Homo sapiens: one gene and its partner. The protein of the gene in region 1 interacts with the protein of each later gene in a biochemical or structural test. Each region holds a gene or a part of one and is shown in the gene's direction. Other genes may lie near its edges.

Evidence for each region. The genes of interacting proteins can lie anywhere in the genome.
Region 2: of the proteins of CCNF (region 1) and CCP110, one has a biochemical effect on the other in vitro, tested with the Homo sapiens proteins (one study listed by BioGRID).

The regions. Positions count from the first base shown.
Region 1 is NC_000016.10:2,453,440-2,459,384, forward strand, and holds the end of CCNF (cyclin-F), read left to right. Parts: coding exon 1-98; intron 99-1,955; coding exon 1,956-2,125; intron 2,126-2,626; exon of another isoform or gene 2,627-3,105; coding exon 3,106-3,581; 3' UTR 3,582-5,415; downstream 5,416-5,945. UniProt on the Homo sapiens protein: Substrate recognition component of a SCF (SKP1-CUL1-F-box protein) E3 ubiquitin-protein ligase complex which mediates the ubiquitination and subsequent proteasomal degradation of target proteins.
Region 2 is NC_000016.10:19,526,908-19,533,944, forward strand, and holds part of CCP110 (centriolar coiled-coil protein of 110 kDa), read left to right. Parts: intron 1-959; 5' UTR 960-974; coding exon 975-1,115; intron 1,116-5,508; coding exon 5,509-5,637; intron 5,638-7,037.

The DNA.
Region 1 (5,945 bases):
TTAGGAGTGACACAAGACAGCCCCGACCCCCCGACTTTCCTCAGCACAGGGGAGATCCACGCCTTCCTCAGCTCTCCCTCGGGGCGGAGAACCAAACGGTTAGTTACCCTGCGTTCTGGCTGCGCCATACAATGCTGGCATCCTCGTGCCGGCCCAGTTCCCTCAGCGCTTCCTCACACAGAGAGGCCCCCAAGGCTTGTCAGGGGAGCAGCAGATCCCAGGACAGTGACCCTGGGACGGAGCCCTGCAGTCATGCCTCGGGCCCCTGCGTAACCTCCACTGTCTCCAGCCCAGGTCTCCTTCCTCAGAGGCTATTGCCTCTCGCTCTGACTGGGCTCCCTGTGGAGGAAGATGGTTTCGAGCACGCGGGAGCCTAGCCTGGCTCTAGCCCTGCCCGTGCCTGTCATGCGCGTCCTGGACTTCTCTGCTCCATGATGCTGCTGTCACTCCCGGCACTCGAGCTGTGACCTGAGTCACATCCCCAGCACTTCCCTCGCCACCCGTGTGGACCTGTTTACCCGCCTCTCCTATCTCAGCACCTTGGCTGTTCCTCCTGGAGTTAACTTCCTCTTTCTACCTCACCCGCCTGGAGAACTCCTACTGATTCCACAAGGCCCCGATGAACAGGGCCCTCCCTGTGCTGCTGGCCCTGCGCCGTGACCCCTCAGCACCATGTGCACCAGTAACCTTCCCAAGGGCAGGCACTGGGTGGCTGGGTCTTTCCTGTCAATATAGGACCAGGCAGGGCTGCCTCCAGAAGCGTTGTGTCGGGAGTGGGCTCCTGGCAGGAGACCTCAACTCCTGGGGAGCCCTGGGGAAGCAGCCAAAGCCCCTGCTGCTGCTTCCTCCCCAAGAAGCGTGACAGCACTTTCCATTGTGTGGAAGGCAGGAGACCTGACCCTCCTGTGTCACTCCACACACGCACCGACTCCCTGGGGCCAGGGTCATCACGAGGAAAGTCCATGCAGATACGCACGGCTACTCCAGGAGGGGGCCTGGCCCTGGCCCTGTGCTCAGCCTCGCTGTGTTAAACCCGCTTCTCAGAGGCCCCCCACAGCCCCATCAGTCTTCTGAGACAGACCCCCACGGGTGACACTGGGATAGCTCTCTCCACCCCCCGCCCTCCACCAGGCCCTGGGGTCAGGAAGTGGAAAGGCTCAGCTGGTGTGGCGGCTTTTCCCAGGCTCACGCCCACACACTGGCCTCTAGCCCCATCCTGAGCAAGACTTGACCCCAGTTGGGTGTGGGTGTCAGCACCGCCCAAGGCCAGGCCATTCCATGCAATCTGCCTGGCGCCGGGCTAAGCACTGCCTGCACCTTATTAATCAACACCAGAGGGGCCGGGTGCGGTTGCTCATGCCTGTAATCCCAGCACTTTGGGAGGCCGAGGTGGGCGGATCACCTGAAGTTAGGAGTTCGAGACCAACCTGCCCATCATGGTGAAACCCCGTTTCTACTAAAAATATAAAAATTAGCTGGGTGTGATGGCGGGCACCTGTAGTCCCAGCTACTCAGGAGCCTGAGGCAGGAGACTCACTTGAACCCGGGAGGTGGAGGTTGCAGTGAGCCAAGATCACACCACTGCACTCTAGCCTGGGCGACAGAGCAAGAACACCTCAAAAAAAAAAAAAAAAAAAAAAAAACACTGGAAGGTGGCATCATCCTAGAGGTTTCCAGGGGACCAGATGGTTGGCCCACGCCCCACAGCTGAGCCGGGTGGGCTGGGCTTCACACCCAGACCTGGGGCCTGAGTTTGCCTGAGCTGTCCTCCAGGTTGGCCCTGCCTGAAGGGCTTATACCTGTTCTAGCTTCACCGGCATCTTCTTCGTAGCAGAACCTTTGGGAGCACGTGGTGACAGGCTGGGGCACGCGGGTGTTAGAGGCAGGTGTGGAGGGCCTGGCCTCCCAGCGCCGCCGTCCATGACTGGGTCTCCTGGGCTCTCTCCACCTTGCAGGAAGCGGGAGAACAGCCTCCAGGAAGACAGAGGCAGCTTCGTTACCACCCCCACTGCGGAGCTGTCCAGCCAGGAGGAGACGCTGCTGGGCAGCTTCCTCGACTGGAGCCTGGACTGCTGCTCTGGCTATGAAGGCGACCAGGAGAGTGAGGGCGAGAAGGAGGGCGACGGTGAGTGTGGGGCCAGGGTGCACCAGAAGGGACATCACACAGAGGGTGGCTCTCACCGAGGGCCTCTGGGCACCCGGCCCTGTGCGAGCGCTGTGGGAGGAAGATGTGCACAGAGTGCGGGGTGGGGCCAGCTCCTGCCCCGCCGGGGAGTGTGTCCAGACATGGGGAGAGAGGAGGGGAGAGCCCCCAAAAGACCACAGCTGCTCCCACCACACAGGGATGAGAGGACTTAGGCCACACCTATCCGGCTCCTGCTCATTCCGTGTTGGGAGGACCTCACTAGGATGAGGGAGGCAGAGACCCTGTCTGGAGTTCATGGAGATCCTTCTAGGCCTGTAGTCTCATGCCTGTAATCCCAGCAATTTGAGAGGCTGAGGCAGGAGGATCACTTCAGGCTAGAAGTTCAAGACCAGCCTGGGTGACACAGCAAGACAAAAAATTTAAAAATTAGCTGGGCATCGTGGCGTGCGCCTGTGGTCCCAGCTACTCAGGAGGCTGAGGTGGGAGGATCTCTTGAGCACAGGAGGTGGGAGCTGCAGTGAGCCGTGATCATGCCACTGCACTGTAGCCTGGGCGTTCTTTCTAGAATGTTGTTTGAGGTGTGCCCACGTGGTATACGTGACACTCCTCACTGCCCTGCTGGGATCACTGCCCTGTGCAAACCCCAGGCAGACTGCGGGGTCCTTGCCAGAAGCCCAGTTAGTGTGAGTCCTGTCAGTTTCCCGGTTGCTTGCTTCTGCGTCCACTTGGCTTGAGCTAGATGGCCAACTTGTCATCTCCACATTTGTTGGAGTCATGGCGGGCAGCTGTCCAACTTGGAAGAGGCATGTCACCCACGCTTCTCACCACAGGAGGGTAACACAGGGGACCGTAGCAAGGTAGAAGATTCTTGACCTGGACTTCAGGGTCCTGACCTGGCAGGGGGTCTCCCCTGATGCTTGGGTGTGACATGACTTCCCTCCCCACCAACCTTCCTGCAGTGACAGCTCCCAGCGGCATCCTCGATGTCACCGTGGTCTACCTGAACCCAGAACAGCATTGCTGCCAGGAATCCAGTGATGAGGAGGCTTGTCCAGAGGACAAGGGACCCCAGGACCCACAGGCACTGGCGCTGGACACCCAGATCCCTGCAACCCCTGGACCCAAACCCCTGGTCCGCACCAGCCGGGAGCCAGGGAAGGACGTCACGACCTCAGGGTACTCCTCCGTCAGCACCGCAAGTCCCACAAGCTCCGTGGACGGTGGCTTGGGGGCCCTGCCCCAACCTACCTCAGTGCTGTCCCTGGACAGTGACTCGCACACACAGCCCTGCCACCATCAGGCCAGGAAGTCATGTTTACAGTGTCGTCCCCCAAGTCCCCCGGAGAGCAGTGTTCCCCAGCAACAGGTGAAGCGGATAAACCTATGCATACACAGTGAGGAGGAGGACATGAACCTGGGCCTTGTGAGGCTGTAAGTGTGTCAGCACATTTGCCGCAGTGGATGTGTACTGAGGGGGCTGGAGGCGAAGGGTGGGAGCATAGCATAGGAACGCTGCATAGACCATGGAGGCCTTTGCGCAGAGAGCAGAGAGGATGACTTGCGGCCACCAAGTTTCTGTCTCCGCGGGAGTCCCGTGCAAGCCATCAGAATGTTGAAATGAGGGTGAAGAGCTCAGATCCCTCTCTTTGGAAAGTTTAGCCTGGAAGCAGTTGGCCACACTGTGTGGAGGGCACCTCTCTGTCCCTTCCGTGTCTCACTGTCTCTGGAAGCTTCAGCCCATGTGTGTCCTGGTGTTCCCAGCCCCACCAGAGCCCCGTGCCGGGAGCTGACAGCTTTCACGCTTAAGGCACGTGTGACCTGGGTAGTCAGACACCACTTGAGCCCCTGCCCACATCTGCTGGTTTGGGGCTTCAGTGGGGAGCTGACAGCTGTGAGCACACCACTGTCCCCTCATCCACCTCGGCCTGCATGGGGCACCCACTTCCTTCTGGGTGGGGCTTCCATGGTAAGGGGGCCTGCGTCCCTGCACACTGCGAGGACTGCCTTGGCCACAGGCCCACTCCCTACGACACGTGACTCGTTTTAGAGCTCTGTCCCAGAGGCGTTCGTATGTGACCCACAGATGGCGTCAATGTGAACACCTCTCTTTGTGCTGAATTTCTGGGCCATTCTTTTCCTGTCTTATTTCTAAATTTCCTTCTTCCAAGATGAAAACAAAAGAAAAACTTAAAACAGAAGGTATTAAAAAAACAAGAGATTCCCACCATTATTTAGGTTCACCTGCAAAACAAAAATCTTACTCCAGCCCCTCAATGCCATCCTGACACACTTTATGCAAAAAGAATTTTCCCAGATAGGCTAGCCAGAAAAAACTTCAAGTCCTCTGTAACATCTGAGGTGACCAAGAGGCAGAAGAGCAGAGCAGTCGGGGGCCGTGTCCTGGCTGATCCCAACTGCAGCTCTGCTGTGGGGGCCCGTGGGAGGGAGGCAGACCCCTGGGCTTTCCTGCTGGCCACGGAGACTCTGCTCCTGCATGGAAAGGGAGCCTGGGAGCCAGCAGCCCACGCCTGGGGAGCCTGCCTGGGGCCATGTGACCATGGCCTCTCCCTGGGAACGGGCTGACCACAACACACCCTGCTGCCATCCACTTCTGTTTACTCTGCAAATGTAAGAAAGAACCACTTGGCCAGAAGTGTCCCCCAGATGCTTTTTTTTTTTTTTTTTTGGAGACAGTTTTGCTCTTGTCTCCCCGGCTGGAGTGCAGTGGCATGATCTCAACTCTCAACTCACTGTAACCTCCGCCTCCCGGATACTCCTGCCTCAGCCTCCTGGGTAGCTGGGATTACAAGCACCCAACCACGCCCAGCTAATTTTTGTATTTTCGGTAGAGACGGGATTTCACCATGTTGGCCAGGCTAGTCTCGAACTCATGACCTCAAGTGATCCGCCCACTTCGGTCTCCCAAAGTGCTGGGATTACAGGCATGAGCCACGGCGCCTGGCCCCCAAATGCTCTTGAACCGGAAACCCAGGGATGGGAGATGCTCACTGAGCTGCTGCTTTTATGTGTGCTGGTGCTATGTGTGTTCATGTCCGCGGCAGCTGTCTTTTTGCTACTATAAGGGAATTCTGGCCACCCTGGGTGGGGTGTGGTCGGGGTGAGAACCCAAGCGTTGGAACTGTAGACCCGTCCTGTCGACTGTGTGCCCCTGGGCATGTGTGAGCCTCAGTTTCCTCATCTGTAAGGGGGGCAATGATACCTACCTCACAGGGGTGTTGTGAGGATTAAATGTGAGGAGGATAGTGGCAGATGAGTGATGGACGTCCTTCACTGCCTCGGCCCCTTGTCCAGGGGCTCTTAATCCCAACTCTGCATGGAGTCAGTTCTCTGCTTTCTCCCAGCTTGCACCTGAAGGAGGAAACCACTCCAGGGGGACCTGGCCCCGCCTGCCTGTGGTGGGTGGGTTCCTGCATCACCCACCTGCTGACTGAGCATTTCCCTGCCTCCTCCTTCACAGAGAATCTCCAGGGAGGCAGGGCCACCGTCACCCTCCCCCACCGCTGATGGAGGGGCCCACCCGGAGCGCTGGGCCAGAGCTGCCTGGGTCCCAACCTCCCTGACAACTCCCTTTGTGCCCTCCTTCCCCTCTGCGATGGCACCTTCCCATTAACGACTATGGAATGGACTCACCTGTCCCATCTTTAAACAGCAACCCCAGGCTCTGTTTTTCTTTCAGCTACCGCCTGGGATTTCTTGCCCCCTAATTGTTTATTCTTGTTAACACCAACTACATGGGGCCCTGCTGCCTTCCTCACTTCCTCCCTCAGGTGTCCCCCGC
Region 2 (7,037 bases), about 17 Mb from region 1:
ATACCCTTGCTGGTTATGATTCTGATAATGTCTTTTTATTTTCCCTTGCTTATTTAAAGGAAACAGTGCCACACATAATGCTGTGCAAATAAGCAATCAACATTTACTGTTTGCTAAATGAATGAATATGATGCCTAATCCCTCCTGGTTACCTTGTATTTTCATAATCACAATTTCCCAGAAACTGTGAAATTACTGGGATTGTTTTAAGTAGTTTGGTGATGGTTCCAATTTTCAACAATAAAATATAATTAATATCAGAGCCAATCGATTTGCTCTTTTTTACCTCTGACTGAGTTGGCTGGTGCTCATGCAGTCCAAGTATAGTGTTAAGATAGGCAAATTGAGGCAGGAGGATTGCTTGAGTCTCAGAGTTTGAGACTATAGTGCACTGTGACTGAACCTGTGAATAGTCACTGGAATCCAGTTTGGGCAACATAGTGAGACCTTGTCTCTTTAAAAAAAAAAAAAAAGATATGAGAGTAACCTCTGAACTTCAAAATAGAAAATTTTTAAAAGTAAATATTCTTTGATTTAAGTAGGCTTTTTTACTACAGTGTTTGTACCTTTGTATGATATAGTTTTTCTTGTGTAGATAAGTCCTGTTAAAGAAAATATAATATCCTGTTTTACAATGTGAAGTTAGTAAAGATTTACAGAACTTTGTTTCCTTTAAGAAGGTTTTACTGAATTCTTAGCTAAATTAATCCCATTTAAAGATTGATTTACATGCAATAATATTCAGAAATATTTAATATATAAAGTAAATCTTAATTGGACAGGTTCTTGAGGTGAATTACCATACCCAAGAATTAGCTCCTGATCAGTAAGACAATTCTGGGAGGACCAGTTATAGGAATTGTGAATTATAGGGACTCTCTCATGCTCTACAAAATCTGCCAAATAATTAAGATCTGTTTTTCCCAGTACATTAAAAATAACATTTTTCTCTCTTGTAGTGTGACTGTGGGAAGATGGAGGAGTATGAGAAGTTCTGTGAAAAAAGTCTTGCCAGAATACAAGAAGCATCACTATCCACAGAGAGCTTTCTCCCTGCTCAGTCTGAAAGTATCTCACTTATTCGCTTTCATGGAGTGGCTATCCTTTCTCCACTGGTAAACTTGCTTTGTTTTTAAATAGTTTTTTTCTGTAGTGAACAACTAAAACAGTTCGTGGAAAAACAAAAGAAAGGCTTATAAACATTTGAAGAGATGCCCTCATTCAGAATTAGAGAAATACAAATGAATTAGCATTTTTTACTTACTATTATAGATTGGCCAAGACCTAATAGAACTTTGTGTTCCTTAGATTGTGGAGAAAATGCACTTTTAATGCACTTTTGCTAAGAGAATCAGTTTATTTTATTTCTAGATGAGCAGTTTGGTAGAATTTAAAAGCATACATAGCCTTTGGGTCAGCAGTTCCATTTTTGGGTATATCCTACAATTATATGTGAGCCCAAAGAAATAAGTACAAAGTTACATTAGCATTGTTTAAAATAGCAAAGGTTGACGAACCACCTAAATGTCCATCAGTAGTGGAGTAGTTTAACTATGGTCTATTTTATAAACTCTCATACATACCATTACAGTAAGGCAGATGTAAATGTTGAGGCATGGAAGGATCTCAATGATCTAGTGTAAAACACCGTGTGCAGCATGCTGTCAGGGGCAGTATAGAGTCATGATTAGAGGTCCAGACTCTGGGCCAGGCACAGTGGCTCACACCTATAGTCCCAATGCTTTGAGAGACCGGAAGGAAGAGGATTGCTTGAGACCAGGAATTCAAGACTAGCCTGGTCAACATAGTGAGACCTCATCTCTATAAAAACATGTTAAAAAATTAGCCTGGCGCAGTGACATGTGCCTGTAGTCCCAGCTCTTCAAAGGCTAAGGCGGAAGGATCGCTTGAACCTAGGAGTTGCAGGCTGCAGTGAGTCAGGATTGCATCATTGCCTGGACTACAGAGAAAGACCCTATCCCAAAAGAAGGAAAAAAACTCCAGCCTGGGCTAACAGAGCAAGACCCTATCCCAAAAGAAGGAAAAAAAAAGTCTAGGCTGTGGAGCCTTCTGGCCTGGGTCCAAATCATTGCTTTGCTACTTACTTGCTGTGTAAACTTGTGGTCCATTTTCTTATTTGTTAAATGGGGATAAAATAGTGCCTACCTCATAAGGCTATTTTGAAGATTAAATGAATTCGTAGATATAAAATGGTTAGAATACCACCTGGATCATAAGAGGTACCCAATATAAGTTAACCATTTGGGTTTTTCAAAGGATGGCTATTCCTTTTCTGGGGAGTGGTGAGAGAATATAGGATAATAGGGAAGACACTTCATCATACACCCTTTGATACTAATTGGATATTTTAAAAATGCATATGACTTTATTTTAAATCACAAACTAATATTAGAAAAAAGTGAGCTTTAAATTTATTTTTTGGTATAACAGGAGTTAAGAGATTAATTTTAATTAATTGAATTGAATTTTTAAAGACACCAGAGCTAACTGCCAACTTTTTGTAATGAAACTTTCAAACATACAGCAAAGTTGAAAGGATAGTGCAGTGACCACCCATAGATTTACCATTAGATTAAATAATTTTTAACATTGTTGTCATCTTTGCTTTATTGTGTTTGTGATTTTTATATACATCTATGTGTGTGTGTACATATGACATTTTTAAAAATTGCCTAGCTATTTGAAAACCACGGAGACCTGACACTGCTCCCCTAAATATTTTGGTGTACATCTCTTAAAAATAAGGACATTCTCCTATGTAAAGCCCCAATACCATTATCACATCTTAAGAAAACTAATAATTTTTAATAATATCTAATAATTCTGTTCATATTTAAATTTTTCCATTTGTGCTCAAAATGCCTTTTATAACTTTATTCCCCCAATCTGGATCCAAAGTTCACAATTAGTATTTGCTTGTTATGTTTCTTTATTTTAATCTAAAATAGCTACTGTACGTCTTAAAAACAGTTTTTTTTATTGGTTGAGCATGGTGCCTCACGCCTATAATCCCAGCACTTTGGGAGGCTGAGGTGGGTGGATTGCATTGCTTGATCCCCAGAGTTTGAGACCAGTCAGGGCAACGTGGTGAAATCTCATCCCTACAAAAAATACAAAAAAGAGCTGGGTGTGGTGGCGCGCACCAGGAGTCTCAGCTGCTCTAGAGGCTGAGGTGGGAGGATCACCTGAGCCCGGGAGGCTGAGGCTGCGGTGAACCCTGATCATGCCACTGCACTCCAACCTGGGTGACAGAGTGAGATACTGTCTTTAAAAAAATAACAAAACTATGATACTGAATTTTTAAAGAGACCAGAGCTATTGTCTTGTAGAATTCCTTAGATCTTGGATTTGTCCCATTGTTTCCTAATAGTGTTATTTAACTTGTTTCTCTAGTCCCTGTAGTTCCTATGAACTGGAAGTGAAGTTTGATAAACAGGTTAAAGATTTTTGGAATTCTTTGAAGATAGGGCTGGGCGGGGTGGCTCATGCCTGTAATCCCAGCACTTTGGGAGGCTGAGACCAGCCTGGCCAACATGACGAAACCCCGTCTCTACTAAAAATACAAAAATTAGCTGGGCGTGGTGGTGGATGCCTGTAATCCCAGCTATGTGGGAGGCTGAGGCAGGAGGATCCCTTGAACCCAGGAGGCGAAGGTTGCAGTGAGCCAAGATCCACTGAACCCAGTAGGCAAAGGTAGTGAGCCGAGATCGAGCCACTGCACAACAGCCTGGGCAACAGAGTGAGACCCTCTCTCAAAAAAAAAAAATGTAATCCCAGCACTTTGGGAGCCCGAGATGGGTGTATCACTTGAGGTCAGGAGTTCGAGACCAGCCTGGCCAACATGGCGAAACCCCTTGTCTACTAAAAATATAAAAATTAGCTAGGCATGATGGTGGGTGCCTGTAATCCCAGCTGTGCGTTAGGCCGAGGCAGGAGAATCGCTTGAACCCAGGAGGGATCGGGATCGCACCACTGTACTCCAACCTGAGACTCCATCTCAAAAAAAAAAGGAATTCTTTGGAGATGATGCCCTGCACTTCATACTAAATTAAATCAGAAGTTACATAATGTTTAGTTGCCCTCTATTAGTGATGTTTAGTTTGAACACTTGCTTACAGTAGTGACTGCCAGATGGCTCTTTAAAGTACACATTTTCTCCTTTTGATTAGCAAGTAAATTGTATAATCATTCTTTGGTACCATGCAATTAGGAAAAAGTTTTAAAACAACATATTTATCAGCTATTTGATAACACATTGCTTGATTTAATGTGGACCAAAATGTCTGAGGCTTGTTGTGTAGGGTCTATGACTCCGTCTGTTATTTATTTATAAGCAAAATGTGATGTTTATGGACCTAATCCACACTTTTATGTTGTATTTGATAGGTGAATATTGCAACTTTTGAAATAATTTTTTAATGATATATTTTCTATTTGTGTAAGTCTACGATAAGTCTTGACTGTTAACAGTGATTTAATTTCCCAGGACTTAATAATTAAGATTGAAATCCATTATAAAGAGATACAATGCTTAGAAGCCTTCCATTTTTTAGGTACATTATATTTTTATCAGAAGGTAGAGTGAGGTGAAAGAAAAGATGTATTCTGCTTTTGTAGGCAAATAATATATTATCTGTTTATTTTATCATTAAACCTTTGGACATTTTTTGAGGCAGCAAAGAGTTAAATTGTGCACTGGTTAGAAAATTAAAAGTTGTAGAATCCAGTTGATCCAGTGAAATAAGATACTGAAGATGGGCCAGGCGCGGTGGCTCGCGCCTGTAATCCCAGCACTTTGGGAGGCCGAGGTGGGCAGATCACAAAGTCAGGAGTTCGAGACCAGCCTGACCAACATGGTGAAACCCCATCTCTACTAAAAATACAAAAATTAGCTGGGCGTGGTGGCACGCGCCTGTAAGCCCATCTACTCCGGAGGCTGAGGCAGGAGAATCGCTTGAACCCAGGAGGCGGAGGTTGCAGTGAGCCGAGATCGCACCACTGCACTCCAGCCTAGGTGACAGAGCAAGACTCCATCTCAAAAAAAAAAAAAAAAGGATACTGAATGTGAAGTAATATTCAAGTCAATATTCAAGTGAAGTAATAAAAAACTCAGCAGTGGCCAAAAGGGCCTTAATTTTATTTCTGTCATTTTAGAACATTTGATTAGTGAACAAACTTTTTTCTTTTTAACCTTTTAACTGAAAATAATTTACACATAGCAAAATGCACAAATCTTAAGTGTTAAAGTTCCATGAGTTTTGATATATGGCATACACATGTATAACTCACACCCACACAGGATTTTCTTCACCATGGAAAGATCTCTAATGCCCCATCCCACTCAGTACCCAGACCATTGTTCTGATTTCTTTCACTATACATTAGTTTTGCCTGTTGCACATGTTTTTAATCTTTCTGATTCACAACTTCCCGATTTTATGATATTTTTATCGTGGGAAATAATTACATTTTTATGATGTTTTGCAGCTTAACATTGAGAAAAGAAAGGAAATGCAACAAGAAAAGCAGAAAGCACTTGATGTAGAAGCAAGAAAGCAGGTTAACAGGAAGAAAGCTTTACTGACTCGTGTCCAGGAGATTCTTGACAATGTTCAGGTGTGTGATTTTAGCTGTTTCAGTTATAATAAAGAAATCATAAGATAAGCGTTGATGATAATTTTTCTGAAATATATTTGCACTTAACTAATTACTAATGTACTTTACTGTTACGTTTGAGAAGCTTCATAATTTGTGATTTTCCATTTCAGTTACTCCAAAGAGAATGTACTTGCTTGTTAGTAATGCCCAGTACTTGAATCAGAGGATATTTACACAATAGAACCATACACTGAATATAATTGCTTATTGTTTGCATCTTATGACTCTAAAAACATTGAATTCTCAGTGACAAAATGACAGAATTGGGTATTATTGTTTACCCCAAACTAATTAGACTATTGACTAAATGACCTTATTCTCATTCTTTGCTTAAGTAAATAACTGCCTCCAATTTTTTTTTGGTGAAAACTCTTAGATACACAAAATGCAGTTTAGATAACATTGAATTGTTTAGATGCATCCTATGTCTAAAAACTATTTAAACAACACATCTACACCTTGTGCAGTTATTTTTAGATTTGTATAAACAATTTGTTCTGACATGTGGATCATTTTGTACTAAAAAGAAAAACAAATGAATTAGATTGAACGAATAATTTCTACAACATATAGCAGTGTTCTGCTGGTAACATCTTTTTGTTTTTTCATAATCTTAGGAGTTTGTGGTTTGTCTGTTTAATTCGTATCGATGACACGTGTATAATGAACCTTAAGGGTTCATTTCTCTGTTGGTAGTGTAAACTGAAGAAAATGACTGAGGCAAGTCTCAATCGATTTAGAGGTTTGTTTTGCCAAGGTTGAGGATGTGCCAAGGAAAAAGAGACAAAAGTTACAGTAGAATCTGTGGCTTATGCTTTTCCAGAAGAGGTTTTGAGGACTTCAGTGTATAAAGGGGAGAGAACAGCAGGAGGGGAAAGAGGAAAGAAAAAAAAAGGAGGGTAGGTAATGAGATAAGCGATCACATTTTTGTGAGGCTTTGATTAGCACTCACTGAATCCACAAGTCGCATGAGAAAGGTGGGGGTAGAGGAACAGTCAGTTATGCATTCATCTCAAGCTCAATAAATCTGCATTTTACATAGGATAAAGTAAGCAGAGTAGAGGAAGAAGTCAAATATACATTTGTCTCCAAAGGGATGATTTCTAGTCATCTTTGGTCTTTGTCCGTATCTTGTCAGAGTGAAATTCAGCAGAACTCTGGGTTGGTGTAAAGATTTTGGGGCCTACGAGGAATTTCCTTGTGAGCAATTTGCAAGAGAGTCTACCTGGGTAGATAGGTGGCCTTCTATTTTGCAGCTATCTGTTTAGGAATAAAAGGAAGGCAGTTTTTGTGTGACTCAGTTCCTAAGCTTTACTTTTTCCTTTGACATGTGATTTTCCATTTCAGTTACTCGAAAT